Linked DNA regions of Homo sapiens: all the other regions are linked to region 3. Evidence: fine-mapped expression QTL. A gene starts in region 3. Each other region holds a variant in brackets. All regions are shown on one strand. Distances are from middle to middle.

What was found. PIP is the estimated chance that this variant, and not a neighbour inherited with it, causes the effect. A credible set is the group of variants that fine-mapping cannot tell apart.
Region 1: its variant is the best candidate, but not a certain one, in a credible set for the expression of COPG2 in cerebellum (GTEx, PIP 0.52).
Region 2: its variant is the best candidate, but not a certain one, in a credible set for the expression of COPG2 in whole blood (TOPMed, PIP 0.70).
Region 4: its variant is the best candidate, but not a certain one, in a credible set for the expression of COPG2 in ovary (GTEx, PIP 0.87).

The regions. Positions count from the first base shown.
Region 1 is chr7:130,509,481-130,517,643 of GRCh38, forward strand. The region is part of intron 20 of COPG2 (coat protein complex I subunit gamma 2); the gene reads right to left. Among named protein-coding and RNA genes, the nearest start is that of MIR335, 17 kb to the left of the region's middle. The variant T/G (reference allele first, on the strand shown) is at 2,373.
Region 2 is chr7:130,602,498-130,610,660 of GRCh38, forward strand. All of the region lies in intron 9 of COPG2 (coat protein complex I subunit gamma 2), which reads right to left. It also overlaps the pseudogene RNA5SP246. Among named protein-coding and RNA genes, the nearest start is that of COPG2, 62 kb to the right of the region's middle. The variant C/T (reference allele first, on the strand shown) is at 5,527.
Region 3 is chr7:130,664,330-130,672,492 of GRCh38, forward strand. It overlaps COPG2 (coat protein complex I subunit gamma 2), which reads right to left and starts at 4,419. Exons shown (of 24, transcript NM_012133.6): 1 at 4,303-4,419; 2 at 3,153-3,205; 3 at 2,520-2,600. The coding sequence starts at 4,339. It overlaps TSGA13 (testis specific 13), which reads right to left. Exons shown (of 8, transcript NM_052933.4): 7 at 7,332-7,459; 8 at 4,314-4,854. The coding sequence ends at 4,685. RefSeq lists an enhancer at 3,622-3,731 and silencers at 4,002-4,591, 4,682-4,791.
Region 4 is chr7:130,499,914-130,508,076 of GRCh38, forward strand. It overlaps MEST (mesoderm specific transcript), which reads left to right. Exons shown (of 12, transcript NM_002402.4): 7 at 1-2; 8 at 549-619; 9 at 876-977; 10 at 2,731-2,807; 11 at 4,020-4,083; 12 at 5,026-6,552. The coding sequence ends at 5,143. It overlaps COPG2 (coat protein complex I subunit gamma 2), which reads right to left. Exons shown (of 24, transcript NM_012133.6): 22 at 7,772-7,910; 23 at 7,361-7,459; 24 at 6,325-6,893. The coding sequence ends at 6,763. Among named protein-coding and RNA genes, the nearest start is that of MIR335, 7.9 kb to the left of the region's middle. RefSeq lists an enhancer at 4,138-5,337. The variant T/C (reference allele first, on the strand shown) is at 3,666.

The DNA.
Region 1 (8,163 bases), 150 kb before region 3:
AAAAGTTATTTGGGGGATAGGCAAGGAGAGGAAAGAACAGGCTCAGATGTGAAGACCATATACGACAGATTGGGTAATAAGACTTTCATCTGCTCAGTCTTGACTTTAAATTCCATCCATTCATCCATCCACACATGTAGTGACTGTCAATACATGTTGACATTACACGTAAAGGTATAAGCTTATGTGCCAGACACTTGGATAAAAAGATGACTGAGACATGATCTCTGTCTCTAGGAGCTGTCTAGGAGTTAAATAAGTGTGTGGGCTGTGTGTGTGTGTGATCTATCTATGACTTTACAACTCAATGCCATAGATCCTTTAAGTTTTAAGAGAGTGCCATGTGAGGGTGCGGGATTAACAAATAGCCTGGGAAAACTGTAAAAAATGTGAAACGATATAATAGTTTAACTGGCTCTCAAAAGATGCAAAAGAGCTTTGGCAAGCAGAGGAAGATGTACAAACAGGCAAAAGGAAAGAGGCCAGAAAGTCCACCGGGCAGCTGGAAACAGTAAGAGGCATGCTAATGCCTAGGTGCTGAGAAGATAATTTGTTTAGGAATAAATTGTAAAATACCTTGTATTTCAAATGATTTTCCAACAGGCTCTGGTGAGCTGAGGCAGTCAAGAGATTGAAAGGTTAGAGATAAGCTAGATAAGGTGCCTAATTTAAGCCACTGGTGGGGACTATGAAGAATGGGTCTGAATTCAGAGAGCAGATGGATTCAACAGAATATGCTGAAAACAGACGATGGCAGTGGGTTTTCCCATATAGGAAAGAATGAACCTATCAAGCCTGCAGAATCAATTTCAATGCCATTAGGGGTTGAGAAAAGAACGACTGTGGTTTAATTAGGATAGGATTTTCTTCAGAGAGAAGGGGAAAGAAGTGAAAGTTAACACAAGGCCAGAACAGGTCAGGTGAGGCATTTTTTTTAAACCATGAAAGAGATACAGAATATGGTAGGGGAAAAGGTCATGATCAAGTTAGAATGAAGAGTCAGGAGAGACATTAATTATAGCAACCCAGTGTGGTTCCAATTAAGCAGAGAGGCTACAGCAAATGAGGAGGACAAAGAGACAACATCAGGTATGAAGGCAGATCACAGACTGGGCACAGGGGCTGAGTTTTATGTGGAGGTAAAGACAGAAGACACTTACATATAAGGACCTGATACAGAGAAAGAGATTAAGGAAGTAAATAGGAATGGTGTTAGTAGAGATAATGTTCCTGAAACCTTAGTGGGAATTTTTTTACTTAAATGGTTTGATTGATACAATGAGAGGTTACAGGGATCTAAGGAAGTCTAGGCAGTAATCTGTCGAAGCTGCTGGAGAGGATGACGAAATGGGGCGAGGAGGCAAGATGCGGGGGCCTTTCCATGGCAAGAAAATACTGAATGCACTGCCATAATGTAAATATGAGAGTTACACAGACAAAGCAAGGCAAATACCAAAGAGAATCAGGAAAGAATGCCCTGAAGATCTGCATTAAAACTGTTCTCTGAAATTAAGCTTGTCTTGTGAGGATTCACTGAAAATGAGAGTCAACCACTAAGGAGATTTGTATGAAAAGAACCCAGCGAATTAGAGAAAAGATAGATGCTGGCAGCTAAGACAGGAGAGGGACATGTGAGTTGGGCCAGGGTACAGAAAATGCAGTGTGGCAAAGGGCAGAGTGGGAAAGGTGGGAGGGAGCTGCCAGGTCTCAACCACCTGGGGGAGACCATGACAAAGTAAGAGACACTTATGAGGTATTTCCAGAAAGCTTTGTTAGAATAATAATTAAAGAAAAGGGTATGTCACTAGGGCAAAAGATTAGAAAGAAGGCAAAAGAGATGGATCTGTACAGGCTAACTGCAGCAGTCTATGCAGGTCTGGACTGAACTGAGAAGCAATGGGTGCAGCATAGTGTGTAGGACATCGAGGAAAGCTGGGCAGTGAGTGCCAAAATAAGCAATACACACCTACCTGGAAAATCGTGTTGAGTCTGTGGGAATGCTGTACAAATGGTGGGAGGGAGTTTTTCTCTAGGACAAATTCAGAAAGGGAAGGAGGAATGGTACTGGAAAGCAACATTAGAGTTGTCCTCAGATGAAAAGGAGTTGGTCACTAAGGAATGACACACATCAACAGGAAGGTAAGACAGCATTGCTGGGCCAAAAGTCATAAGAGAGTATGAAATAAGAGACTGGAAGCAAAGGAAAGAAAATATTACATAAGGAAGGGCCTACTGGCAGAGCAGGTGTGGAATAAAGATTTAGAATGGGGTATCCTGTCTAGGTCTAAATGGTCGGCTGCATGGGAAATACACAGAAAGGGTTAAGGAGCAAGGAATTCAGTAGGAGGCAGCAGCAGACTAGCTCTTAAAGC[T/G]TTTGAGGGAATGGCTAATTAAAGGACTTGCTTGATAGGAAAGTTATAAACTGATGAATGCTGATAAAAAGCTATAGATGGGCCGGGTGCAGTGGCTCACGCCTGTAATCCCAGCACTTTGGGAGGCTGAGGCAGGTGGATCACCTGAGGTTGGGAGTTCAAGACTAGCCTGGCCAACATGGTGAAACACTGTGTCTTCTAAAAAAAAAAAAAAAAAAAAAAAAATACAAAATTAGCCGGGCGTGGTGGCCCATGCTTGTAATCCCAGCTACTTGGGAGGCTGAGGTAGGAGAATCACTTGAACCCAGGAGGCAGAGGTTGTGGTAAGCCGAGTTGGTGAGCCTTGTTAACTCTCCTTGTTAATACACAACTCTCCTTGTTAATATACAACTCTGACAATTTAACATGAGCCAAGCCCCATTGCACTCCAGCCTGGGCAACAAGAGCAAAACTCCATCTAAAAAAAAAAAACAAAAAACAACAAAAAAGCTATAGATGGCAACTTTAGAAATATTAGGCTTGATTTATTAAGAGAGTGTGAACATGTAGTTTGTCCAGAGAATGGATTATTGCTACTAGATGGGGAATGGGTGATTATGAAGAGTGAAGTAAAAAAGTCTATATCTATTTCTGTAGAGATGGTAAGGCCGGGTGCAGTGGCTCACACTTGTAATTCCAGCATTTTGGGAGGCTGAGGCTGGCAGATCACTTGAGGTCAGGAGTTTGAGACCAGCCTGGCCAAGATGGTGAAACCCCGTCTCTACTAAAAATTTTTGTAAAAATACAAAAATTAGCTGGGCGTAGTGGCACATGCCTGTAATCCTGGAGGTTTCAGTGAGCCAAAATCACGCCACTGCACTCTAACCTGGGTGACAGAGTGAGTTTCCGTCTCAAAAAAAGAAAAAAGAGAGAGATGGCAAGTGAAAGGATGACTGACAGTTAAGATATCGTAGACTATTGCACAGTGTTCCACTGAAGTTGCCTAGAAGTTACTCTGCTATGTGAGGATTGGCTAAAAGTGACAGACATTTCCTAGGGAAACATGAATGAAAATATCACAGGGGAAGAGAAAGAGAAGATGGAGGCTGGAAGCTAAAAGATGAAAAGATGTAGGATTTAGGCTGGAGTGTGGAATATAAAGTGTGGGTAGGGGCTGGGCACGGTGGCTCATGCCTGTAATCCCAGCACTTCAGGGGACTGAGACAGGTGGATCATTTGAGGTCAGGAGTTTGATACCAGCCTCGCCAACATGGTGAAACCCCATCTCTACTAAAAATGCAAAAAGTAGCTGGGCGTGGTGGCAGGTGCCTGTGATCCCAGCTACTTGGGAGGCTGAGGCAGTAGAATCACTTGAGCCCGGGAGGTGGAGGATGCAGTGAGCCGAGATCAGGCCACACTGCACTCCAGCCTGGGTGACAAGAGTGAAATAATTCTGTCTAAAAAAAAAAAAAAAAAAATATATATATATATATATATATATATATATATATGTGTGTGTGTGTGTGTGTATATATATATATATATGTGTGTGTGTGTGTATATATATATATACACATATACATATATATGTATGGGTAGGGAAGGGCATTAAAGAGGGCCAGAATGAGGAACACCAGAAGATGGCAGAGCTGCATATGCAGTAGAGAGATGTGAGTTAAGCTGGGTTACAACCAAAGAAGGAAAGAGAATACAAAGAGTAAGTAGATAAATAAGAACTGGTGTCATGAGGAAGTGCCATCTGGGAATCTTTGCTTGAATGATGTTTGAAGCAACAAGTGTGACCAATAGAGTGAAAGGTCAAGGAGTTTAAATGGAATGGATTCTTGCCATAGGCAGTGGCAGGAACCCTATGAAGGTCTGGAATGAACTGAAAGTGCAAGTGTTTTCAGAGTAGTGTGGAGGTGACGAGGAAGAAAAGACTAAATTCATGAGAATGATACACAAGATGATAGCTGAAAAAACAAGTGACTAACAGTTGTTCTACTAGGGTCAACTGGGGAAAATAGTGGAAGAGCCTGCAGAAGAGACGGAGTCATTTGAAGATTGGCAGGTATTGACTGGAGGGATACGGCCCCATAAGTGTAAGATTAAATAAGGAGAGACTGGAAACTGTGTAAAGGGAGAACTATACAAAGAGTAGGTAAGCGTAGGTGGAGTGGCATGGACAGGTAAAATGAGGAAAGTGTTTCCCAGAATGGGAAATCTTGTAAACCCTTAAAAAATGTGGGTTTATTCAGTCAAATGTTGGCTCTTAATTGCAGACTTTGAAAAGCAGTAGATACAATGGAAGAAGAACAAGTGCTTGAAAAGTAATGCGAAGCTTTTGTGAGAAGTTTAATGAGAAGGATTAGAAGGAGATGGATTAAGATGAGCCCTAATAGGGCAGCACTTAAAGACACCAGGATAGATCTTTGAGTAGTTTGTAGAATGGATGACTAATATTGGAAGAGGAGTGGCTGGAGATCATGTTGGAAACCCATCTCAAGGGTGAAACTTCTTTGTTTCCAGGTACAGATGGTAGATGAAATTTTACTCTATATAATTAAGGGAGGGCAAATCACCAAAGGGGAGAAACAAATGAATATCATGTAAGTGCGGTATTAAAGTTACTCTTAGAAGTTACTCTGTCATGTGAAGATTTTCTACAGATGAGAGACAGACACTAGAGAGAATTTGGCTAGGAAGTGCCATTCAGGAGGAGACAGAGTCCATCTGAATGAAATATGGACAGCAGCTAAAAGAAGGGAGGCTGAAGATAAGGTAGCGTACATCTTTAGGGCAAGATAGGTAACAAGGAGAAAAGGAATAGGAGAAAACATTAAAGTTGACTCCAGATGAAAAGGTCATTTGAAGAATGGCAGGACTGACTGGAGAGACAGTCCCATATTTGGGCCAAAAGACATGAAGAGGGGTTAAAGCTAAGGGGAGCATTAAATAAACTAGATAATGATTCTGAAAAGGTGGCGTGGTAATAAGAAAGACCACAGCGCCATAAAGATGCCTGGAGAATCCTGCCAGATCTCAGAATGGGCCCAACTGGCCAAATTCAGTGGGTGTAAGGCCAGATTGCAGTGACTAGTATATGGGAGAGAAGGAAAGACCTGAATAGGAATGAGTCAGTAGACTCGCTCTTGATGCCTTAGTGGGAGATTTTTAATTAAAGGGCTTGGTTGAGGGAGAAGTTGAAGAGCAATGCTTCTTAGAATGTGTTACATGGCACTATCTAGGAATCTGTTAGAAATATGAATTCTTTTCCCCTCCCCCAGACCTAGTCAGTCAGAAACTCAGGGTGCATTAATCTGTTCTCACATTGCTATAAAGAAATACCTGGGACTGGGTAACTTATAAAGAAAAGAAGTCTAATTGGCTCAAGGTTCCACAGGCTGTACAGGAAGCATGGCTGAGGAAGCCTCAGGAAACTTACAATCATGGCGGCAGGTGAATGGTGGGGAGCCAGCACTTCACAGGAGAAAGATAGAGAGTGGGAGGAGGTACCACACACTGAAAACAGTCAGGTCGTGTAAGAACTCTATCACAAGAACAGCACCAAGGGGATGGTGCTAAACCATTTATGAGAAACTGGCCTCATGACCCAGTCACCTCCCACTAGGCCCTACCTCCAACACTGGGGATGACAGTTCGACATGAGATTTGAGTAGGGATACAGATCCAAACCACATCCTGGGGTAAGGCCCTGCAGCTTGTTTTAACCAGCTGCAGTTGGAGAACCACTGCTTTAGACAAAGGCAGGCTAGGAACAATTCTGATAAAGAGCCTCTGCTAGCAACTGTTGTGTTAGGGTCAGCTGAAAATTAAAAGAAGCAACTGAAGAGACTTGAATGAAAGGAGAGGAGAGATGGAGAGAATGGAGGTGATGGAGGGTACAAAAGGGAAGGGATAAATGAATGAGGCTGGAGGCTGAACTTGCAGCACAGTAAGCAGGCCAGTGAGGAAGGGCACTGAAGCATGACAGGATGAGGAATACTGGGACAGGGAGAGTAGCAACTCTGGTAGAGTGATTTTATGTTAATCCAGTCACAGCCACTCAAGTAGACAGAGGAAGGAGAGAACGTGGCTAGGTAAGAATTGAGGTTATGAGGGGTCACTGTTCAGGAAGCTGTGGATCTCAGATCCAGTGTGCAGTCTGAACAGTGAGTGTTGAGTGTGAGGGGTCTGTTTATCCAAAAGACAGTACTGAATCTATGGAACTGACATACACAGTCTCTGAATGAAGGAGGGATACTGAATATAGTTTTTATAAGGCAAAATAAAAAGGTGTACAATAGTGAAGTTAAAATTGCTTCCAGACGAGAAGGCATCACTTAGTATTGACCAAAAAAAGTGTCAATGATACTAACTGGAGGTATTTGGCACCATACTTGGGCGAAAGGTCATGATGGAAAATAAAGAAGCCAGGTTAGATGCTATCTAAGGGGAAGGGAAGGCTTATCTGAAGAGTAGAAAACTGGTTTTGAATGAGGGAGACAGTGGGGATATGAGGGGAGGAAACCTCAAAAAGAATATGTATCCATCACTATGAAAGGTTAGGCTATACAGGGGAAGCCTCCAAAGGGAAATCTGGAAAAATGTTCTGAGAGGGACATTAAGGATGTACTCAGAAATTAAGAAAACATATTAGGACTTGCCAAAAGTGAGAGAAGCAACTGAGGAGACTTATATGCAAAAATCGCAAAGAAGGAGAGAACAAAAGATGGAGGTTGGATGCTAAATAGGGAAAGAGAACGTGTGAATGAGGTAGGGGGCAGAACATGCAGTGCAGAAAAACAACAGATATGGAAGGGCATTAAAGAGGGCTAAATGGGAATATTAGGAAATGAGAGTTGGGAATTTGTCAGAGTTGTGTATTAACAAGGAGAGAGTAAGGTAAGAAGGTGGCAAAGTAAGAGCCAGGGCATAAGGTTTTGCTGTCCAGGAAGCTTTGTTGGAAAAATGTTAGAAGTAATGGGTTTGGTCAGTATGGTGAGAGGTGAGAGAGGCTAAATGGGATGGGCATAAAGGGCAGGCCAGTGGCAAGAATCCTATGAAAGTGTAGGCAGATCTGAGAGCACAGACAAATACAGTGGAGAATGTGGCACAGGGCAGAGGGCAGTGGGCTGAGCAGCGAGTGCCCATGGGGAGGGGAGTATCCAGAAGAACCCATTGAGTCCCTAAGAATGACACACAGGTGACAGCTGAAAGAAGGAGGGACACAGAAGATATAGCAGCATGATTCTCTGGGGCAAAATGAGGAAGAAAGGAATGGAAGAAGAAAGTGAAGGGTTCCTGCTGATGTGAGGGGATGACTGGAGGAAAGGCAGGTATTGACTGGGGGGTAAAGGAACCATTCTTGGATCAAGGTTATGATGGAATAAGAAGGAAGAGAGAGCTGGCTAGCTGAGTAAAGGACCATCGTATAAAACAGACAAAAGTTAAGACTAGATGGAGTGGCAACTAGGCAGATCAGATGTATTTTTAAAAGGGGAAACTGCTAAGATCTCAAAATGGGCCCAAGTGGTCAAATTGGGTGGGAAGGCCCAATGGTAATGAATGGTGCATCTAACAGAGCTTCGGGGACCCAGGCAGAAATGGGAATTAGTAGATTAGCTCTTGATGCTGTAGGTAGAAATTTTTGGTTAAAAACTTGGTTAATAAGAAAGTTTAAGGGAGTTTTATTAAGATGAATTCTCCTAAAAAGGTACTGCTAGCAACCTTTAAATACATCGGTATTGACCATTTAGGGAGGGTGGGTGAGTAGTTTGTCTGTAGAGGAAATTAATTGTATTTCTTGAGG
Region 2 (8,163 bases), 62 kb before region 3:
AGTCTCACTCTGTTGCCCAGGTTGGAGTATAGTGGCACAGTCTCAGGTCACTGCAACCTCTGCCTCCTGGGTTCAAGCAATTCTCCTGCTCAGCCTCCTGAATAGCTGGGATTACAGGCACACACCATCACACCCAGCTAATTTTTGTATTTTTAGTAGAGACGGGGGTTTCACCATATTGGCCAGGCTGGTCTCGAACTCCTGACCTCAAGTGATCCTCCTGCCTCGGCCTCCCAAAGTGCTGGGACTACAGGCATGAGCCACCACACCCGGCCAACCACTTTCCTTTTTTTTTAAAGCCTACAGCATCCGGTATTACCAGATTGTCTCGCATCCAAGTACTAACCAGGCCCAACCTTGCTTAGCTTCCAAGATCAGATGAGACCTGGCTTGTTTAAGGTGGTATGGCCATAAACTAATACCACCTTCTACACCATTATTTCTCATGTTGTCATCCTCTGGAATTTTAGAGCTTCTAATTAAAAAAAAATTATTTGTAAACATCAATTCAGAATTATCAACTTTTCTACCCCAAATAAGAACCATCCAGCTAAGACATTCCCAAACCCCTGACCTGCAAAAATTATATGGAAAAATAAATATTTACTATCCCTTTAATCTGGTGTTACACATGACAGTATGAAAATCATACGTGAATTACTACAAAATTAATGTGCTCCTACCTCAGAGATAATCACTATACTAACTTTCAATACCACAGGTTAGTTGTGCCTATGTTAAGTCTAAAATAAACATAAATGGAACTATATAAAATGTATTCATTTGTGTATGACTTCTTGGTGAGATGTATTTATGTGATTGTATTTAACAGTAATTGTTCATTTCCATTATTGTATACTATCTGACTATATGAATATACCACAATTTATTTTTTGATTCTGGCACTGATAGACATTTGGACTGCTTCCATTTTGTGGCAATTTGGGCATGGTGGCTCATGCCTGTAATCCCAGCACTTTGGGAGGCCGAGGCAGGTGGATCACCTGAGGTCAGAAGTTCAAGACCAGCCTGGCGAACATGGTCACACTCCGTCTCTACTAAAAATACAAAAAATTAGCAGGGTGTGGTGGTGCGTGCCTGCAATCTCAGCTACTGGGGAGGCTGAGGCAGGAGAATCAATTGAACCCGGGAGGCAGAGGTTGCAGTGAGCCAAGATGGCACCATTACACTCTGGCCTGGGCAACAGGAGCAAAACTCAGTCTCAAAAAAAAAAAAAAAAAAAAAAAAATTTGCGGCAATTATGAATAACAGTACTATAGGCATCTTGTACAGTTGATCCTCGAACAACATGGGGTTAACAGTGCCAACCCCCATGTAGCTGCAAATTCACATGTAACTTTTGACTCCCCCAAAATATCACTAATAACCTACTATTAATCATCTTGTTGATAACAAAAATAGTTCATTAACACGTTTTATGTTATATGTAATATATATTGTATTCTTACAATAAAGTAAGCTAGAGAAAAGAAAATATTAAGAAAATCATAAGGAAGAGAAGATATAACTATTCATTAAGTGAAAGTGGATCATCATAAAGGTCTTCATCCTCATCATCTTACATTGAGTAGGCTGGGGTGGAAGAGGAGGTCTTGATGTCTCAAGGGTGGCAGAGGTGGAAGAAAATCCATGTGTAAGTGGACCCATGCAGTTCAAACCCATGTTGTTCAAGGATCAACTGTATGTCTTTTAACACACAAATGTAGGCATTTCTGTTTGGTTATTTATAAGAAGCCAATTGGGATTGTAATTAGGGGTTTGTGGAATCCATAGGTCAATTTAAGAAGATGTATCTTTACAATATTGAATATTCCATAAATGTTATATGCCTCATTTACTTAGGTCATACTTTAATATTGTGTAATTTTCTGTGTAGAGATATACACAAATTTTAGTAGATACATTCCCAAGGATTTGATTTCAATATAATTATAAATTGTACCATTTTTACAAAATTTTATCTTTTTGATGGGTTGCTGGAATAAGAAATAAAATGACTTCGGATATTGACCAGCAACACTGGTAAATTTACATATGAGCTCTAATAGATAATGTACAGTTTATTTTGCATTTCCTATATATATAGCCATATTATCTCCAAATATAGTGTTACGTCCTCCTTTCAAATTTTTAGGTATTTTATTTTCTTCACTTATTGCACAAAGTAAGCCTTCTAGCAAAATACTATTTAAAAAATAAAAATAGCAGGCATTTTTGTCTGTCTCATTCACAATCTCTAGGGGAAAGCTTTTAATAGTCCACCAATAAGTATAAAGTTTAGTGGAGTTTTTTTGTACTGTTGTCAGAATAATCATGTTCCCTTCCAGTCCTGGTGGCAGAGATTTCAATCATGAATTGCCATTAAATTTTATCAACCGCTTTTTTCTGCACCCATTAAGGCATTAAGACTCTTCTGTATTTTTAAAATGAGGTATATTATGCTATGTTTTACTGTTAGATCAACCTTATACTACTAGAATAAACCCATACTGGGAAATATTTGGTCATTATTTCTTCATATATCTTTTTTGCTCCATTCTATCACCTTTGCTTCCAGATTCCAATTACATATGTGTTAGGCCACTTGATCTTATCCCACAGTTCTTCGAGGCTCTTTATTTTCTTTAATCTGTTTTCTCTCTGTTCTTCAAACTAGCTACTTTCTCCTGCTCTATCTTCAAATTCACTAACTCTCTTTGACTCTCTCATCAGCCATCTCTAATCTGCTGTTAAGTCCATTCAGCAAATTATCTGATTCAGTTATTGCACTTGCTGGGGCAGAATGGCTCCCCAAAGATGTCTATGTCTTCATTCCTAGAACTGATGAATATGTTACGTTACAACATGGCAAAGGAACTGTGCTGATATAATTAAGATTGTCACCTAAATTACCCAGGTAGGTGCAATCTAATCACATGAGCACTTTAAAGCAGATGTGCTGAAAGAGGAGGCAGAAGAAATGTGGCAGAAAGGCAAATCAGAGAGATTCAAAGTGCAGCTCAACACACTATTGCTGGCTCTGACACGTATGAATCAACATGCAAGGGACTCAAAGAGAGGCCTTTAGTTGCTCATTGAAAGCATGAGAAGGAATACAGGCAACCTCTAGAGGCACAGACTAACCTCCAGCTGAAAGCCAGCAAGGAAACAGAGACCTACAACCTACAGTCTCAAGGAAATGAATTTGGCCAACGACTTAAATGAGATTGGAAGTGGATTCTTCCTCAAAGCCTCCAGTAAGCAACAGCACTCCACCAACATCTTCACTTTAGCCCCATGAGGCCTGTGTCAGACTTCTAATCTACAGATCTGAGATAATAAATGGATCTTGTTGTAAGCCATTACATTTAATGGTAATTTGTTATGGCAACAATAAAAAAAACTAACAGATTTTGGTACCTGTAAGTGAAGTGTTACTGCGACAAATACCTCAAATTGTAGAACTGACTGGAATTAGGCACTGGGTGGAAGCTTGGAAGAATTTTGAGGAGCATGATGGAGGAAGCCTAGTTTTGAAGAGACTTATAAGAAATCTGATCTTAAATGATCCACCCACCTCAGCTTCCCAAAGTGCTGGGATGCCTATAGTTCCAGCTACTCAAGAGGCTGAGGCATATGAATGGCTTGAACCCAGGAAGCGGAGGTTGTAGTGAGCTGAGACTGTGCCACTGTACTCCAGCCTGGGCAGCAGAGCAAGACTTTAAAATAAATAAAAAAAAGAAAGAGAGAGAGAGAGAGAGAAAGAAAGAGAAAGAGAAAGAAAAAGAAAGAGAGAGAGAAAGAAAAGAAAGAAAGAGAAAAGAAAGAGAAAGAAGGAAGGAAGAAGGAAGGAAGGAAGGAGAAAGAAAGATCAATCGATCTGGTTCTTAAGGACACTGCTGGTCAGGGCTTATGAACTGCCTACAGAAATTTGGACTTAAAAGATGCTGTAGTGAGGGCTCAGAAGGAAGTAAAAAACACATTAATGTAAACTTGAGTAAGGTAGATCCTTGTTATTATGTATTGGCAGAGAGCTTAGTGAATTTGTGCCCTGTAGTTATTTGTGAAGCAGAACTTGTAAACGATGAAGTTGGATATTTACTTGAGGAAAATTCCAAAAATGAAGATGTGACCCAGTTTTATCTTGCTGTTTACAGTAAAATGTGAAATGACAAATTTCACCTACGGAGAGCAACTTTGGCCTGTGCCCCTGAGTTCCAGCCTCCCTGCAATCTTCCCTTCCTGACAGCCTATCCTATGAATTTTAGATTTGCTTAGCTGGCCCCCGAATTACATAATCAATAAACAAATCTCTACATATTTATATCCTCCAGGTTCTACTTCTCTGGTTGAATCCTGACAGAGTATTTTTAAGCTCTAGAATTTCTACTTAGCTCTTTTTGTCGTTTCCATTTCCCCTGTTCATTCATGGTAACTATTTTCCATTAAAGTCATGGACAAGGCTGGCTGTGGTGGTGCACACCTATAATACCAGCACTTTGGGAGGCTGAGGCAGATTGATTGCTTGAGCTCAGGAGTTTGAGACCGGCCTGGGCAACACTGCGGAACCCCATCTCTACAAAAAGTACAAAAATTAGCCAGGTGTGGTGGTGCATCCCTGTAGTCCCAGCTACTTGGGAGGCTGAGGTGAGAGGATTGCTTGAACGTGGAAGGCAGAGGTTGCAGTGAGCCAGGATCACGCCACTGCAGTCCAGGCTTCACAACAGAGTGAGAGAGACTGTCATAAATAAATAAATAAATAAATAAATAAATAAATAAATAAATAAAGTCATGGACAAATTTATAATAGATGCTACAAAGTTTTTGTTTGCTAATTCCAATGTCTGGATCATATCAGGGTTAGTTTCTATTGATTGCTTTTTCTCTTGGCTACTAGTCACATTTTCCAAATTCTTTGTACTTCTGGCAATTTTTACCATCTATTAAACATTGTAATGATATACTGTAAAGACTCTAGAACTCATGGAGTTTCTTTAGCAAGAAGCTTGGCTGGGATCAAACTCCAAACTTTATTTCCTCCATAGTGAGTTGCAGCTGAATTCTCCATTCAATTCTTTTATCTTACAACTACTGCTTTTGGCAGGTCTCCTAGAGTATTCTCCTGTATATATGTAGTTCAGTTGGTCAGCCAGTGATTTTTGTAGAGTTTAAAATTCATTTTGAGACTCATTCCTTTTATGGCTCCCTCTTTTCCAGGTTTTCCACTCTAAGTTTTCAGTTACTCTTCCAACCTCAAACTGTTTTGACCACTCTGTCCAGAAATACTGTAGCTTTCTGTCATCCTACACTGAGGAATTACAGAATGCCCTCAGGAGAATAGCAAAAAAACCCCACAAATTTCACCCAGTATAGCTTTTGTCTTTCAGGCATCAACTGCTTCCCTCCAGTTTTTGCTTGCTTTTCACCACTCCCCAATATTTTCATACTGTTGTGGGTTATCTTCATTTTGGGAAGGTATAGCTTTGTACTAATGTCAATTATTATTTGCAGGAGGATTAAGCTGGC[C/T]AAGCTACACCATTATTGGAAGGAGGAAGCTCAACTGAATATTTTTAAATATTCCATTTTATCTTCTCTGTTGACATTTAAGATCTATATGTTTTACAAAGATTTTTTTGTTAGTTATAATATTCATCCTCAAGAGATTACAATATTCATCCTTATCACAGTGTATCATCAAATAATATACTACTGCATGATACAAAAACTTTACAAATGTCCATTTTTCTCCCTCATGCCCTTTATACTACTATTTTCATATATTTCACTTCTACATATATATAAGCCCCATAATTTGCTGCTGGTTTTAGTAAAAATTGTATATATTTATAATTTACCTACATATTTACCTTTTAATTTACCTACACATTTACCCTTTCTCTTGTCCTTCATTCCTCCTGAAGATCCTGGCATCCATCTACTATCATTTCTTTTTAGCTGGAAAAACTCCTTTTAGCATCCTTCATGATGCAGGTATGCAGACACAAATCCTTTCGGGTTTTTGTTTTTTCCTGGTTGAAAATGTTTTAATTTCACCTTCATTTGGAAGAATACTTTTAGAGTATAGAACTCCAGATTTTCAGTTATTTGTTTCAACAATTTTAAGATGTCCATTATCCTCTCGTATCCATTTTTCTAATGAGAAGTCAACGATTCTTATTTTTGTTTCCCTGAATCTAATGAATCTAATTTGTCTTTTTTTTAAAAAAAGGCGACTTTCAAGCTTTTCTTTCATTCTTTCTCTTTTGGTTTTCAACTTTTTACTTGTAATATATATGACTAGGTTATGATTAGGTGTGGTTTTTATTTATCCTACTTGAGTGTCACTGGCCATCTTGGATTCATTTTGGGTTTGTTGTTGTTATTTTTTGAGATGGGGATCTCACTCTGTCACCCGGGTTGGAGTGCAGTGGTGTCATCTCAGGTCACTGTAACCTCTGCCTCCCAGCCTCCCATGCTCAACCGATCCTCCCACCTCAGCCTCCTGAGTAGCTGGGACCACAGGCCTGCGTCACCATGCCTGGCTAATTTTTGTATTTTCTTCTGATAGAGATGGGGTTTTGTCATGTTGCCCAGGCTTGTCTTGAACTCCTGAGCTCAAGCGATTCACCTGCCTCAGCCTCCCAAAGTGCTAGGATTACAGCCATGAGCCACCGCACCCAGCCCCTTTCATTCATTTTGGAAAATTCTCATCCATTGATATGGTTTGCCTGTGTCCCCACCCAAATCTCATCTTGAATTTCCATGTGTTATGGGAGGGACCAAGTGGGAGGTAATTGAATCATGGGGGCAAGTGTTTCCCATGCTGTTCTCATGACAGTAAGTCTCATGAGATCTGATGGTTTTAAAAATGGGAGTTTCCCTGCACAAGCGCTCTCTCTCTTTGCCTGCTGCCATCCATTCAAGACGTGACTTGTTCCTCCTTGCCTTCCACCATGATTGTGAGGCTTCCCCAGCCACGTGGAATTGTAAGTCCATTAAACTTCTTCCTTTTGTAAATTGCCCAGTCTCGGGTATGTCTTTATCAGCAGCATGAAAATGGACTAACATATCCATTATCTCTTCAAAGATTTATTCTATTCCATTCTGTTTCCTTTCCTTCTGAGACTCATTACACAAGTATTAGACTTTTTGATATATTCCCTAGGCTTCAGATGTTCTATTCTTTTATTTTCTTTTCTTATTTTTCTCCCTATGCTTCAGTTTGGACAATTTCTATTGACTTGTCTTTAAGTTCTCTAATCTTTTTTCCACTGTGTCCAATCTGCTATTAAGTGCTTCAAATAAATTTTTATTTTTGATATTGTATTTTTTGGTTCAAGATTTTTTTTCTAGTTTCTATTTATCTATTGAATTCCTTACCCATTTACACATTTTGTCCATCTTTTCCACTCTTTAGTGGAAAGATGTAATTTACAAAAGTTACAAAAGTTCACTTTACAAAACTCCTTTGGTGTTCACTTTAGAGAAGTTGTTTAAAAGTCACTGCCTAGTAATTTCTAAAGTCACTGCCTCCTAATTTCTATATGTGGGTCATCTGTAAGTCAGCTTCTACTGACTATTTTTTTCCCTCTTGTTTATGGGTTACATGTCACTGCCTCTGTATTTTTTGATTGTTTGCTAGACACTGCTTATAAAGGTGCAGTAGACACTGATGTAACTAATACTTATCATTAGAAAAGTGCAGGTCCTTTTTCATTTTTAGCAGCTAATAGTTGATCTGGGTCAGGACTTTGCTGCAGCTTTAATTAAATTCAGTTATCTGCTGTTTACAAATGATCTGAGGAACAGATCAGGTTTCCCCTTTCAGCAGGGCATTAGTAGTAGTGGCAGATTCTAGAGATCTTTCTCTGTGTTACACCTCAGTTTGCCAGGCCACATAAGAAATCTTTGTTTTAGAGCTCAGCCATAAGCCTTCAGGCTGGGGAAGGGGTCTTCTTTGCTCCCTAGATCCATGCCCAGCTTACTATACCTCAAAAGATTTCTCATTCCTGCCCTTCCCTAGCCTTCGAAAGACTGCTAAAGTATATTTGGTCACATCTTATGTGCCTCAGACTTGTGGAATGATCTTAGGCAAATCACTAAATGCAGTACTTCAACATTCTCTTTTATAAAAATAAAAGGGATAGGATAATTCTTAATGTC
Region 3 (8,163 bases):
GACAAAGTACAATAAGTTTATACTTACTTAAATCAGTGTATCCAGCCTGCTCATCAGCATGAGATTTATCTTTCTTTCACAACTATTTACTGAATACCCAGAAGTCTGTGTGCTTTTTAGTTATACAGGAAAACCTTACATCCTACTTTTTTACTTGAAACTCAGAAAACACATGGATATGTCAACTCTCATAGAAATTCAAAAGTATCTTTCTATAAAGCTCTACCAAGTTCTAGGCAAAGAGATAAAATTTATGTTCCCAAACCTGTTTATATAGTTAATTGTGTTTATGCTGTGCTTGGTAATTTCCTTATCAAGATAATTAAATGTTTCAACATGAGTTGCCTCATTGAAGAGGTAATGACCAACATAAAAATACATGTTACTCTCAATCAACTTTGACTATTCAAAACTTTTGTTTATACAATGGATTTGGCCAACTTAGACACAATGTGTGCTATGAAAAGTTAAACCCAATTGACTATGCTTTAAATGTTTCTCATATGCTGACACAGAGGGATTATGTTGTTTGTGAACAGATATATTTTATTTAAAACTATGTGTTTGATGATCAGGCACAGTAGCTCACACCTGTAATCCCAGGACTTTGGGAAGCTGAGGTGGGCGGATCACCTAAGGTCAGGAGTTTGAGACCCACCTGGCCAATATGGTGAAACCCCGTCTCTACTAAAAATATAAAAATTAGCCAGGCGTGGTGGTGCATGCCTGTAATCCCAGCTACTCAGGAGGCTAAAGTAGGAGAATTGCTTGAACCAGGGAGGTGGAGGTTGTAGTGAGCCGAGATTGCGCCACTGCACTCCAGCCTGGTAACAGAGCGAGACTCCATCTCAAAAAATAAAAAAAATCTATGTGCTTGTTGCTTAGTCTTCATTTGTAAACAAGAAAACTTTATTAAATCTCTGAGTGAGGTCTTCAGTCACAAAACAAAGTAAAGATAATATATTCTCTTAGAATTCAAATTGGAAACCATGGTTATCTTAGCACCATATGTAAACCACCTGAGGTATATGGTATATATGTATGTTTTATGTGTCCGTCTGTATGTGTATAGACATATATAGTCAGCCCTCCATAACCATGAGTTCTGAATCTGTGGATTCAACCAGGCTCAGATTGAAAATATTCAAGGAAAAAAAAAACTATGTTTGTACTGAACACGTACAGATGGTTTTTTGTCATTATTCCCTAAACAATACAGCACAACAACTATTTACACAGCACTAACATTGCACCAGGTATTGTAATCTAGAGATTATAGTCTAAGTATTATAATCACAGAGACAACTTATATATGGGAGGATATGTGTAGGTTATATGCAAATACTACACCATTTGTATGAGGGACTTGAGCATCTATGGACTTTAGTATCCAATGGAGGTCCTGGAACCAATTCCCCACTGATACTGAGGGAATATGAATCCATGAAACAAAATCATATTTTCTAAGGCCCTAGACATTTCATGAGTTTTTTTTAAGTCTGGGGCAAAAAAAAAAAAAAGAAAAAGAAAAGAAAAATTAATAACAACAGCAGCAAGCAGAATCTACATTTCATGAGCGCAAATATTTTTGCTGGTTTGTCTGCTATATCCCCAACACCTAAAACAGTGCACAGCACACAGCAGCTACGCAATAAATATTTGCTGAATGACGGAAGGAAAACTATTCCTGAATGCTTACTGTATGTTCAGGACTATTCTCAGTGCTTTACACTAATTATCTCATTTAGTCATTACAACTCTGTAACAGGTATTATCATAATCCCCATGTAGAGAAAAGGACATCAAGGCACATAAAATGGTTAAGCTACTGCCCAGAATTATTCTGCTAGTAATGGTAGCATAGGGATAATAAATATAAAATCTGAATATTAACAATCAAAGCTTTAAAACATCATTACACACATAAAAAAGAAAATATCTGGAATTTGCCTGATCTTGCACTGTATTTTCAGAAAAACATGAAGATCTCCAAATACATGTAAACAACATGCTCTAACTAGTACTCATTAAATTGAAACCAAAGGATTTATTGAGAATCTACTATGCGCATCACTGGTTTAGGATCTCATGAATAAAAAGGAAGTATAGGTTAAACATCTCTAATCTCAAAATCCAAAATCTGAAATGCTCCAAAATCAGAAATTTTTTGAGTGCCAATATAACACTCAGTGGAGACACTCATCAGAGCATTCTGGATTTCAGATACTCAGATTAGCAATAGTCAGTGAGTATGTATTCTGCAAATATTCCAAAATCCAAAAAAATCTGAAATCCAAAACACTTCTGGTTCCGAGCATTGCAAAGAAGGTATACTCAACCTGTATATGTCATAGTCCTCGTACTCAAGTTTTACATATTATTTTGTTAACCAAACGTTGTATATGTTAAAATTAAGTGAATTTAAAATAAATAAATATACTTTCCAGAAAGTATTTCACTGAATCTTCAGTATTTCTATTCCAGGACACACTTATCTGAGGAAAATAAAAATAATATACCTGGTTCAGTAAGTAAAGAATCTTTGTAAGAATATGCAAACATCTTCTTGGATTGATTGGAGTTTCATTGAATATACGAGCCTATGAAAAAACATAAAAAACATTGCTACTTTTCTACCTTTTCTATCACAGATTATAGCAAATCAACTTTAATACAGACTATTTTTAATCACGGTATCCAAAGAACATTGTCTATAGTTCTCAATTTACTAAGGTATCTGATAAATTATTACACGTGGCCTTGATTTTCCATCCTATACTTTCTCATTCCCTTAGGTTGACTACTTCAACTTTATGGGCTATACCAGTTAAATAAGGATCACAATACTTATCTATATCATACTAATACAATGAGATTAATACAGATAACTGATTTCAATAACCTTGCACTAAACACCTGTTCTTACATTTAAAATTCCCAACCTGTGACAGTCTTCATGTCTTTGCATTTCTATAAGCTCCAAATTCTCCTGTGACAAGTAACCCCTCTTTCTTTTCCCTCAAATCTATATTCCCTAAACTCTGTTACGTTTCTTGTTTTGCATGTCGTGATCACAGCAGCCCAGGGATTCTCTGCCCACCACTCTAAAACAGAATAGAAAAGAAAGGGCACAAGATACTTCCCAGTCATACCTCCTGTAAAACAGCACTCTTCTCCAGATGCTGGAAAGGATTGGAGCCACTACCTATTTATAAAACAAAACAAAAAAATGTCCTGAACAGCTGTTCTACACAAACTTATATACTTTCCAGAGAAGGGTACTGAATGCTTGGGAAGTGAACACTTGGATGGCACAGTGATAATCATGGCTAATACGCATACGAACTGAATGAAATCATTTTGATCCCGGCTCTGTCACTGCCATACTCGAAGAGCTGAGACTTCTCTTTCGCAGCAACCCTCTCCAAAATGAGTGTCTTCTTTCCCTGCCCTCTTTTTCCATGAATGTTAAAAATGTGTCATTTCCACAACAACGAAGATTAATGAGATTGTAGTAGGGTGCTTTTGATTTCCTTAGGTAAGCAGTATTTTATGTGTTTCTAACACTTAAGGAGAGGCAGAAACGAAGTTTCCCAGAGAATCATGCAGGCGTAAAGGTGCAAGAGGCCATGGAGGTTGACTAACCCAACCCCCTCTCACACTGTGGGAGATGCTACCAAACACTGAGAATTTTTTTCTTTTTGAGGATGCTTGGCATCTTCCCCATTTGCTCTGGACCAAAGACGGGCATCAAGACGCAGGTCACTTCTGGACACCTGAGCATTCAACGAGCTGTGTCCCACGGGACAGTCTTGCCCCCGGGGACCTGGACAGAGCCGGTGACCCCAGGAAAACGATAAGGTACCAGGCACCTGAACGTTCCTCCACACACACCCTGTGCCGTCGACCCCAGCCCCGGGAACAGGGTGCTCCCACTAGGGGTCCGACCCTACCAGCACCCCTGGACGCGGAGACGCGCGCACGCCCTCGGCCCCCGCCGGAGGCCCGCGCGCAGGGGAGGAGGCGGCTCGGAGGGGCTGCGCCGCAAGAGGGGCGGGAACGGGGCGCGCGCGGGCGCCGGGGCGGGAGCGCGCGGCCCGAAGGGAGGCTCCGGCGCCCGGGGGAGGGGCTACGGGCAGGCCCCGGGCAGCCGCGAGGGGAGGGGAGGGGCCGGCTCCAGCTCCGGCCCCCTGGCACGGCGGCGCCCACGCCCCCAGCCCCGCCGGCCTGAAAGCAGGTGGCGGCGGGCGGGGGAAGGGGCGTCCCGCGGCTGAGGGTGGGCCTCGGAAGCCCCGCGCGTACCAGACTCCTCGTCCTTCTTGTCGAATTTTTTAATCATCTTGGACGACTTCCCAGCGCCCAGACCCACCGCAACCGTCCCAGGCGCCGCAGCCGGCGAGCGGAAGAGGCTGCAGGAAGGCCGGCCCCGCGCTCTCACGCCGGTTGGGCCGCCGCGCCTTCACTCGGGGCCAAGGCCCGCCCTCCCCGGCCGCCCTCGGCCCCCGGGACGCAGCCACGCCCCCTTCTCCTCTTGCGGCCCGCCGGAGACTTCGGCTCGACCCTCCCGGCTTGCGACCCGGGAGCCCACGCCCGCAGCAGCAGGAATGTGGTTTTATTTGGGTGGCGACTTCTGCGGACCCCTCAGTCTCAAGAGAGCGAGGCGGGAGGACTGAGGGGTCTGTGTTCACCCGATGACCGTGGCCTTTTTGATAATCCACTGCGGGGCCCTCCCGTTGCGGAAGGCGCTCTCCCCGGGCGCGGTTCTGGTGGGCATGTCTTCCAAGAGCGATGCGAGTGTCAGTGGTTCCCGAATCACTTTGGAAATTGGCCTTTCACTCGCTGACTTCTTGGAAGCTACGACAAAGCACAGGCACCCTGGTGAATGTGGCTTTTCAGAAGTACTCGAAGGATACTTAATGTGAGATGTAAAGGAGACGCACTTGGAGGGACCAGAGGCTGGTCTTTAGAGGGTAGATTTTGGACCGTGTAATACCATTCCCAACCTATTTTATAATTTTTGGATTCCTTCATTTCATCAAAACCCAGTGGAAAATTCATTGCCAGTTTAGAGTCTTCCTTGTTCAAGCCTATTTCTTTCAATGATTCCATCTGAAACCATATTGACACTTAAGAAACTCACTAAATTAACGTGCATTCATTCCTAACTCATGTTCCTCTTTTTCTCAGAGTGTATGCTGGCTTTCTGTTCTCTTGTCTAAGAGTGTAGCTAAGAAACTTTGTCTGCCTTTGGCTTCACTGGCATAACTTGTTTAGAAATGTAAATTGGGTCTATACTCAACAGGATCGTGCCCCTGCAAAATTAGAGAAATTCTAACCTAGATTACATTCTACATCCTAGAGAAATTCTTTCCCTGAAATACAGATTTAAGATGAACTGTTGATATCCTACATATGGTATCATTTAAGATTTAACTCCGACTTGACTAAATGTACTATTAACTACTATGTTTGCTTTATATGGCTTGTAAAGGTCAAGTCATACTTTGTAGGTGGAGTTTTCTTTGAAGGAAATAGAAGTCTGCACTCATTTATTCTGGGGGTGAAAATAAACAGGCTTTGGGGAAGGAAACATCCTCTTCCTCTTCCTTGGCCCAAGGGTATTGGGAACCTAGGCAGAGACAGTGTAGATAATAGGCCCAGAGGTTCTCAAGGTGGGTAATGCCCCGGAGACCTGCTGAGAAGTAGAAGGACCTGAGTTCAGATTTGGGGCTGACCCTAAGACTAGCCCCTTGTAAAGCAAGATCAATCATTCTCTGCTGTTCTTCAGCTTTTCTGTATATCTATGAAGTTTTGTTTAATACCACAGGTTGTTTTTAGCTGTGCAGTATTTACGGAGTTAAGAGCATCAGTAGGTGGAAATGGGATGGGATGTGGTGGCAGATAGGTATAGCAGGAGCAGAGAAGCCTGAAGAAGCCAGTTAAGGGATGGTATAATATGACCCCAGGCCTTCGGTATCAGGACTATTTGGACTGAGGATGGCTGGCAGACGGGTTGAGCAATCACTGCAATGGCTTTGTGGGACAGGCAAGGATACCTTAGGGAGTCTCAGGAATTGTTTGAGGAGAGAAACCCAGTAGGAGAAATGGACCTTATCTTAAAACCATGAGCTGGTGAAGTCTGAGGACCCACCAATTATATATATCTAATACACAAATGTGTACTCAGTGCCCTGAAATTCTTCATTGGGTCCAAACTGCCTACTGGATAAAACCCAAACCTTTATTTAAATAATATTTAAGGCATTGTGGTATTTTCGATTTCTTGTTATTGTTGTTTGTTTGTTTTTCAGACAGGGTCTCACTCTGTTACCCAGGCTGGAGTGCAATGGCATAATCACAGCTAACTGCAACCTTGAACTCCTAGGTTCAAGCAATCCTCCTTCCTCAAGCCCCCCAAGTAGCTCAGACTACAGGTGCATGCCGCCACACCCTGTTAAATTTTTTTAAATTATTTTTTGTAGAGACAGGATCTCACTATGTTGCCCAGGCTAGTGTCAAGCCCCTGGCCTCCAGCAATCCTCCTGCCCCAGCCTCCCAAACTGCTAGGATTACGGACACGCCCAGCCTGTCAAGGCCTTTTATGATCTGTTTCATCTCTTTCACATATTGAAAGTGATATTGTTGGTGCTTGGTAAGTGTCAGACACTTAGTAGGAACCCTTGAAATACTGTTAAATAAATGATAATATGTGAGGAGGATTCTCATTGTACCCTCTGCCATACAACCTTATTCCAAGCCCCTTCTACCCCATTCCCTACCCCAATCCCAGAGACTTTTGTACCTCTAAGACACACAGACTTATCCTTTGGCCCTTTTAGAGCAGTTTTTTCTTCAAAGTATAATATGCATACCACTGGGTGGTTCTAGGTGGTACATAGATAAACATTTTAAAATTTCATTATTATAAATTTGATATAAGTGTTTCAGAAAAGCATATAATTTGTACATCAAAACCATGATATCAATGATATAGTATTAATTAGGACAAGATTTTTTAAAAATCCTTTTAAAAAATGCTAAGTAAATTAACAGCAAATAATACATCAATATGGCAAAAACTATTAAAGTGCTGGGTGATATAGCTTAGTAAACACTGCTAGAGCTTTCTTGAAATTTGAGGATTTAAACAGGGTCCAGAGCTTTGCACCTTTTGAGCCTCTATTTGTTGTTAACTTCCATGCTATAGGGAAAAATAGTCTCCAGGACTACCACGAGAGAAGCCAGTTTGCCACATCTATAATCCTCATGGATTGTATCTCCAGCCCAAATCTCAGTCCAGTAAGCCTTTGCTTTGAAAGAGAGGAGCTTACCATCTTTCCTCATATCTCTCTCATGGACTGGAGCAAAGGTGAGCTGAGGGTACATTTTCTTCTGTGTCCTCAAAGCGTAGACTTTTGAATACTTCCCTTCGCTCTTGAAATCATTGTCAGTGGAAAACCTTAACAAAGAAAGTTCTTTGTTTAGTAGATCCTAGGGCAGGGGGATTCATGGAACTATTCACTTTATTTTATTTTATTTTATTTTATTTTATTTTATTTTATTTTATGTATTTATTTTGAGACACAAGTCTTGTTCTGTCACCCAAGCTGGAGTGCAGTGGCATGATCTTGGTTCACTGCAACCTCTGCCTCCCAGGTTCAAGCGATTCTCCTGCCTCAGCCTCCCAAGTAGCTGGGATTACAGGCACTTGCCACCACGCCTGGCTAATTTTTGTATTTTTAGTAGAGACGGTTTTCACCATGTTGGCCAGGCTGGTCTCGAACTCCTGAGCTCAAGTGATCTGCCCACCTTGGCCTCCTGAAGTGCTGGGATTACAGGCATGAGACACCGCGCCCAGCCCCACCATTCACTTTAAAGTTGGCTACATTCTCAGAGAAGACAAGACAATGATAGGAGCCTGTTGATTGGTGCCAAGTAGGAATATTGTTCCGTGACAAGGGATGCTTCTGAACTTAACACTGTAAACCTTTGGAGGAACTCCAGAATCTCTTCTGTCCTCTCTAAACTACACATAGGCTGCTCTTGTAAGTAGTTTCACATAAAACCTCTTTTGTCTAATGTGTTCTCATAGCACATGGTTCCTGTGATATAGCGCCTAACTTGTATTGAGGGTACTTTTTTTTTTTTCCTGTTTCTTCAAAG
Region 4 (8,163 bases), 160 kb before region 3:
AGGTTGGTACTTCACTGATAGACCTTTAGTTTTAGGATTTGTACTGACGTAAATAATGCTGGGACCTTTTAAGGGCCATAGCTCCTGTAACTGGCAGTAGTTAAATCCTCTTCCTTGTGAATTTCTATTAATGAAGTTACTTTTTCCCTTCTTAGGCAACTAAAGCAGAGGCAGTGGCCCCTACGTAAACCCAAAACCAATCCTAAGAATAAGAGATCAACAAATATTTGGAGAAATTACAGCTATGGAAAGATCTGTGTCACAAGCTTGATGTTTGAACAAATTAGGATCCTACTCTAAACTTGAATATATCAGAGTTAAAGTTTTAGGGATTTAGTGAATTGTAGAAAAGTAATCTTAGATGGAATTAGAAATAGATTTGTCTTCCTTGAGAGAAGAATGCGGGTAGGCAAAACAAAATGCCAAGTACCAAACCATTCAGTAGCAGGAGATTTGGCTAAAGATTTAGTTCCTAGTATAAAACCTTTTGCCCCGGTGAGGATCTTCCTCTGGGTTCTTGAGCTTTACCTCCACTTATTCCCCTCCAGCTACTCAAAGATGGAGGTGTGCTGTCACCCATCCTCACACGACTGATGAACTTCTTTGTATTCTCTCGAGGGTAAGTGTCACTGTCAAAGATTGTGGCCTAGAGCAATGTCGTGAAAAGTTGCTGCCATTACAATTCTGGGCCAAATCCTAAGGCTTGATATTTTAAAGCAAAGGTGTTGGCCGCTTGCCAGGGAAGTAGAAGGAATTCATAAATCACTTATGGGTCAGACTGCATGGCCCAGACTGCATGGCCTCTGAGGTTCCAGCCATATTGAACATTCTGAGTTCTCCTCACACTTATCTTCCTGCGTTTTGGACTCTTTCAGTCTCACCCCAGTCTTTGGGCCGTATACTCGGCCCTCTGAGAGTGAGCTGTGGGACATGTGGGCAGGGATCCGCAACAATGACGGGAACTTAGTCATTGACAGGTAAGAAGTTACCCTTTGCTTTGGTTTCCAGAGACGTGTTTTTGTGGAGAGTGGGGATTGCTTGTTCTGTTCCTTGCTGGCTTATTCCCTATCACAGGAAGGCTGATGATGACCTATGGGGCAAACCAAAAAGTCATGGTCTATATGAAGAAAGAAATAGAAAATAAGAGTGAAACTGGACTCTTTGTTAGTATTAAATGCTTCAAAGTATTGAATCATGGTTGTGAAAGTAGCCTAGTGCCTCCCTCAAGGTACAAGGCTCTTCCTTTTGCCTATCTTTCTGCAGCAACGGGGAGTGAGAGGGCAGACTTCTCTTTCTCTGTCTTGTACAAAGAATTCCCATGCCTTGGTTCAAATGAGAATGTAGACACTTTCACAAGGGACCCAGAGGTGGTGATAGCTGTAACTACTTGGGATAAGACTCTGACTTCTAGCCACCTGGCTCAGTGTAGCTTCCAGTGTTTTTACTGATGGCTTTGCTGGGGATTGTATGTTAGAGGGAGCCAATCCTCCCACCCTCTCCTAAGCCCCAACAGGATCCCTGAATATTTCATTTTAGTATTAAAAAACTGAAGAACAATTAAGACTGTCTTTTAAAATTATATTTTCCTTTCCAAAAAGTAAATACTATTTGTAAGATGAGATATTTGAGGTTCACAAAAATAACTGTCCTGGAGTTGCCAGGCAGAATGAGTAGAATACATGAGTTTGAGTTCTAAAATGTGGCAGTGGTGTCTTACGCTGGAGAAAGAGGAATCCTCTCCATTTTATCTGTGGTCAGATGAAGCTTTGTGCTCATCAACATCTACACTTAGAATTTTGAAGTAGATGTCGGCTGGGCACAGTGGCTCACGCCTGTAATTTGAGCACTTTGGGAGGCCAAGGTGGGCGAATCATATGAGGTCAGGAGTTTAGAGACCAGCCTGGCCAACATGATGAAACCCCGTGTCTACTAAAAATACAAAAATTAGCCAGTAATTCCAGCTACTCAGGAGGCTGAGGCACAAGAATTGCTTGAGCCCAGGAAGCGGAGGTTGCAGTGAACTGAGATCATGCCACTGCACTTCAGCCTGGGCACAGAGTGAGACTCCGTCTCAAAAAAAAAAAAAGAAAAAAAAAAAGAAGTAGATGTCAACACAGAAGATCATGTGTTACAATCCTCTTATTTTAAAAATGAGGAGGCTAGCCAGGTCCTTTGGCACATGCCTGTACTCCCAGCTACTTGGGAGGCTGGGGTGGGAGGATCTCTTGAGGTCAGAAGTTATAGCTGTAGTGAGCTATGATTGCACCTGTGACTAGCCACTGCACTCCAGCCTAGGTAACATAGGGAGACCCTGTCTTTTAAAAAACAAACCAACAAATGAGGAAACCGAGTTGAAAGATCTGTGTTATATGTTTGAGTCAGAGAGGTAGGTAGTGGTGGAGCCTAAATTGGAACCTCAGACCTGGGCTTTTTAGTTACATAAAATCCAAACCAACTGTCAGCCTTCCTAGATCTCATTCCCTGCTTAATAAATACACAAACCCACTAATTCTTATATTGATAGTAGGCATAATCACTACTAGAGCTACATGGTGGTTAACTCTAGAGGTTAACAGAAATGGATAAATTAAGTGGGACATTTCCAGGAATGCTAAACTGCTTCTGGATTAAGAAATTGTATCTTGTGTTCCTTGTGGCTCGTTATGCCCTTGAATCCCTGTAACAGTAAAGGTTTCTTGTTCTGCACATGCTGACTTACCTGTCCTACAGTCTCTTACAGTACATCAATCAGAGGAAGAAGTTCAGAAGGCGCTGGGTGGGAGCTCTTGCCTCTGTAACTATCCCCAGTGAGTATTTTTGTATTATTGATAGGAAACTGAAGGACTATAGGGTTAAAGTAATCGCAACTCCTTTATACAATTAGGGTTACCAGATTTAGCAAATAAAAATATAAGATACCCAGTTAAATTTGAATTTTAGATAAACAACAAATGCTTTTTTAGTATTTAAGTATATGTTGTACAATATTTGGGACCTACTTACACCAAAAAAAAATCATTTTTCACCTGAAATTCAAATTTTCTGGGTATCCTTTATTTTACTGGCAACTGTACTCATGACATCTGGAACAGTGATGTGTGTGTGTAGAGTGAAGTATATAAAAAGCTGAGACATTACTGTAAAGGTAGTTGGTATTACTGATTTCTGTGGTGTGCATTGTCAGTGACTGCCACATTACATGCTGAATTGCTCGGACAGAAGGCTGTTTGGATTACTAATCAAGAGGCTATAGGTGGTTTGTGCTTATTTGTCTTTTCATTCTTACAGATTTAAAAAAAAATTATGGTGTTTCACACATAGTGATTAGTGCTCAGGAAATTATTGGTTGATTTCAAATGTCAAGGGTCTGTTATAACTGAAGAGAGACTTAAAGAATGATAGTATCCTGGACTTAGAGGATGTTGAAAGTTGGGCATATCCCATTTGGTCCAGGGTGCAGGAGAGCTGGATGAGGGACCAAATGGTTGTCTGTAGGAGGAGATGTGTCCAATGAATGAACTGGTACGTGCCTAGCAGTTTTTTAGAGGTTACCTAATAAAACAAGCTAGGTTTTGTATCACACAAAAAATTATTTATAGAAAATATTTTCTTGGGCTGGGTGAGGATGCTCACGTCTGTAATCCTAGCTTTTTGGGAGGCTGAGG[T/C]GGGAGGACTGGTTGAGCCCAGGAGTTTGGCACCACTCTGGGCAACATAGTGAGAAAAATTTTTCTCTACAGATAATTTAAAAGTTAGCCAAGTGTGGTGTTGCACACCTGTATGTAGTCTCAGCTACTGAGGACACTGAGGTGGGAGGATCGCTTGGGCCAACGAGTTTGAGGTTACAGTGAGCTATGACTGCACCACTGCACTCCAGCCTGAGCAAGGGAGAGAGAGACCTTGCCTATTATAATAAAAAAAGGAAGAAGAAAACATTTCTTTTCGGAGAGGAGTTAATTTTAGGGTGGGAGTAGAACAGATGTGAGAGCTGTTAAGTATTTCATTCCTTTTCTCTTTTCTAGTTCATTTTATCTATGGGCCATTGGATCCTGTAAATCCCTATCCAGAGTTTTTGGAGCTGTACAGGTGAGTCTCCCCGAGAGAAGTCTATGTTTTGTTAGTATCTCATCCTGACAGTGGTAAACAGAATTGCCTGTTGAGGGCTATTGGCTCTAGCCATTGTCTTTAACCTCGCTGGCTGTTCATCCAGGAAACAATAAAAAGATTGAGTTGAGGAATCTTATTCTAACATAATTGTAGTATCAAGACATTCAGTTATACGTTCTCTTGATTTATACATAGTCTGTTTTCACTGTCATGACTGCTACATATTCCTTGGTGTACAAAAAGCTCTCATGTGAGTCAAAGGTTGAAAGTGGATATACCTACAAAGTGTTTGTTTGTTTTAGTCTGATTGTAAAGCCAATTCATTGGTTTAGGCTGAGCAGATGGCAAGGAGAGATTGAGAAGAGCTCATTGTGGAAAAGTGCCTTCTCATTGGTTGCTATTCTCTCTAGGTACTTACTTGGAAGGTATCAGAATATGAAATCTTGATTATGTCACATAAGAATGTTCCATACCTTCCTGTGGCCTACTGGATACAAGCTAGTAGTAAACAGCTTGCATATAATTTTAAATAAAATACCCCCTCTCTCATCTCCTCCTGGGATTAAGGGAAGATCCTTGGTTATCTCTGCTTGGGCAGTGAGTTGCTGTGTGATCCACTTGTTTGATGCTTCATCCTTCTCTAAGGAGCTGAAAGTCATCTTGCTTTGACAATTGTTGCAAAAGTGTTATATTTTCAAGTTGTTGTTTGTTGGATTATGAACATTTAAAAACTAGTTTGTATAAATGGAATTGGCAAGTTTATCTGCCTAAGATACAATTTCAGAGTAGAAGGTGAATAAGCTCTTTGGTGGCTCCTTCCAGTGTGGTGTGTCCACAGGGTCATTTACTGGGGCTTCCCACTGGCTTACATCCCTCCCGCTCCAGCCTCAAGTTCACCTGCGTGCTGTTCTCTTCCACTAGGAAAACGCTGCCGCGGTCCACAGTGTCGATTCTGGATGACCACATTAGCCACTATCCACAGCTAGAGGATCCCATGGGCTTCTTGAATGCATATATGGGCTTCATCAACTCCTTCTGAGCTGGAAAGAGTAGCTTCCCTGTATTACCTCCCCTACTCCCTTATGTGTTGTGTATTCCACTTAGGAAGAAATGCCCAAAAGAGGTCCTGGCCATCAAACATAATTCTCTCACAAAGTCCACTTTACTCAAATTGGTGAACAGTGTATAGGAAGAAGCCAGCAGGAGCTCTGACTAAGGTTGACATAATAGTCCACCTCCCATTACTTTGATATCTGATCAAATGTATAGACTTGGCTTTGTTTTTTGTGCTATTAGGAAATTCTGATGAGCATTACTATTCACTGATGCAGAAAGACGTTCTTTTGCATAAAAGACTTTTTTTTAACACTTTGGACTTCTCTGAAATATTTAGAAGTGCTAATTTCTGGCCCACCCCCAACAGGAATTCTATAGTAAGGAGGAGGAGAAGGGGGGCTCCTTCCCTCTCCTCGAATGACGTTATGGGCACATGCCTTTTAAAAGTTCTTTAAGCAACACAGAGCTGAGTCCTCTTTGTCATACCTTTGGATTTAGTGTTTCATCAGCTGTTTTTAGTTATAAACATTTTGTTAAAATAGATATTGGTTTAAATGATACAGTATTTTAGGTATGATTTAAGACTATGATTTACCTATACATTATATATATTTTATAAAGATACTAAACCAGCATACCCTTACTCTGCCAGAGTAGTGAAGCTAATTAAACACATTTGGTTTCTGAATAAATTGAACTAAATCCAAACTATTTCCTAAAATCACAGGACATTAAGGACCAATAGCATCTGTGCCAGAGATGTACTGTTATTAGCTGGGAAGACCAATTCTAACAGCAAATAACAGTCTGAGACTCCTCATACCTCAGTGGTTAGAAGCATGTCTCTCTTGAGCTACAGTAGAGGGGAAGGGATTGTTGTGTAGTCAAGTCACCATGCTGAATGTACACTGATTCCTTTATGATGACTGCTTAACTCCCCACTGCCTGTCCCAGAGAGGCTTTCCAATGTAGCTCAGTAATTCCTGTTACTTTACAGACAGGAAAGTTCCAGAAACTTTAAGAACAAACTCTGAAAGACCTATGAGCAAATGGTGCTGAATACTTTTTTTTTAAAGCCACATTTCATTGTCTTAGTCAAAGCAGGATTATTAAGTGATTATTTAAAATTCGTTTTTTTAAATTAGCAACTTCAAGTATAACAACTTTGAAACTGGAATAAGTGTTTATTTTCTATTAATAAAAATGAATTGTGACAAAAGTGGACTCTGGCTTCCCCTCCCCCCTCCCCCCCACCCCTCTGGGATAAAAATTTTCCAGCATTGCCAGGAGCTTTCAGGTACACATTAAAGAATAAAATGAAGTTAAGCAGCTGGAGTATAGGATAGTATTTGATTTTCAAGATCACCCAAAGCTGCACTATCGTCCCAAAGCTGACCAAGTAGAATAAAAAGAAAAAAAAAAAAAAACAACCCATGCGCAAAGATAGACATTTGCTTGATCTGCTGGCTCAGGGCCAAATGTTTAATTTGCTTCTCCAAAGTCATTCATCTTCAAAAGTCTGATTCTGGGAAACTGATGCCACTAGCCTAAAAGCCCACTGACCATGTAGTGTGCATCAGTTTCCTCTTGTCCAGTAAGCATTTATCCAACAGAAGCTAAGATAACATCTACAGGTGTTCTCTCTTTACTTCTGACAGTCACCTGCATGGTCACTCCATCGGCTAAGGCCAGCCTGGACCTCACCAATAAATCATAGCCACCTCTGAATATACCTGAGAGAAAAAAGTAAGGAAAACCATATTAAGAACCCAAAACAAGCACTGGATAATGAAATTTATCATGCTATCCCTGCATCTCCTTTCTATTAGTTTAGTTTAGCTTTTCCAGAGACTTGTGGAAACTGAATCCTAAACAAACATAAATTCCAAATATATATATTTTTATATTCCCATGAAACCAGGTACATAGAAGGTATTCAAAAATACCAATTTGGAGTACTCAAAAGGAATGTTGGTGGTGGCCTTGGTATCTGTTGGAGAGATTTGTTTTGGGCCAAATGTACATCTTAAAAGAATAACCAAGAATAGCATGCAAAACAAATTATTCATTTTGACTGGGTATCAAATTGTTACTCATATAATGGGATGATGGGACAACAGCAAGGCATAAGATGCCCATCTATATCCTATTATTAAGCTTTGCAAGAAAATGGAAGGAAAATCTGATGGAAGCTTCTTACCTGCCAGATAGAGCGAATGGGAATTCTTGTTCTCAGGTACTTTATCGGACCTCTCACATGGCTGCATGCCCAGAAATGTGATGATATTGTTGACAGCCTCTGTGTTGAGAAGATGTATGAGACAGTATTAGGAAAGTAAAGCACAGGGATCTCCCTCTGCACCAGTGTATGCTGGGAGCTGGGGTGGAAGGGTTTGTTGGTGAAGGGGGTTGTTGGTGATGTGTAGAGGGAGGCTACTACTGGACTAGAAAATGGCTGATCAATTAGATGATGAAGACAGGGTGCTGGCCTTTTAAGTAAGAGATTTATGAAGTTTTTTTTTTTTTAAAGGAGTTCTTCTGGAGTAACAAATATGCCTGTTAGGTGTTATACTGTTATCAGGCAATATACTGATAGCAAAATGGGTCTCACCTTCAAGGGTTTTGGTAGAACTGAGGGCAAAGGTTTCCTCTTTCTCAAAGGTATCTCCCACCTCTTCCCAAGCAGCAGCAAAGTTAGGCTTCAGTACTTTCTGAATATGGTCAGACACAGTCACTTCGAGATCTTCCAGCTAGTGGGTAATAAGCAGTCAGTAAAGAAAAGTCCTTTCTGTTATAGGGCAAAGATAAAGGAACTAGTCAATATGGTCCTCCGGAGCCTAGAGAAAACTCTACCACCAAAATAGTTTAAGTTCTGTAGTCTGGATAAATCTAATGTTGTAGCCCTTAGCAAAGGAAAGCAAGAAAACAGAACATCTGGCAAGAGCCTCAGATCAACATCTGTAGCCCTGAGGTACAGAGTAGTCATGTTGCACCCACACTTGA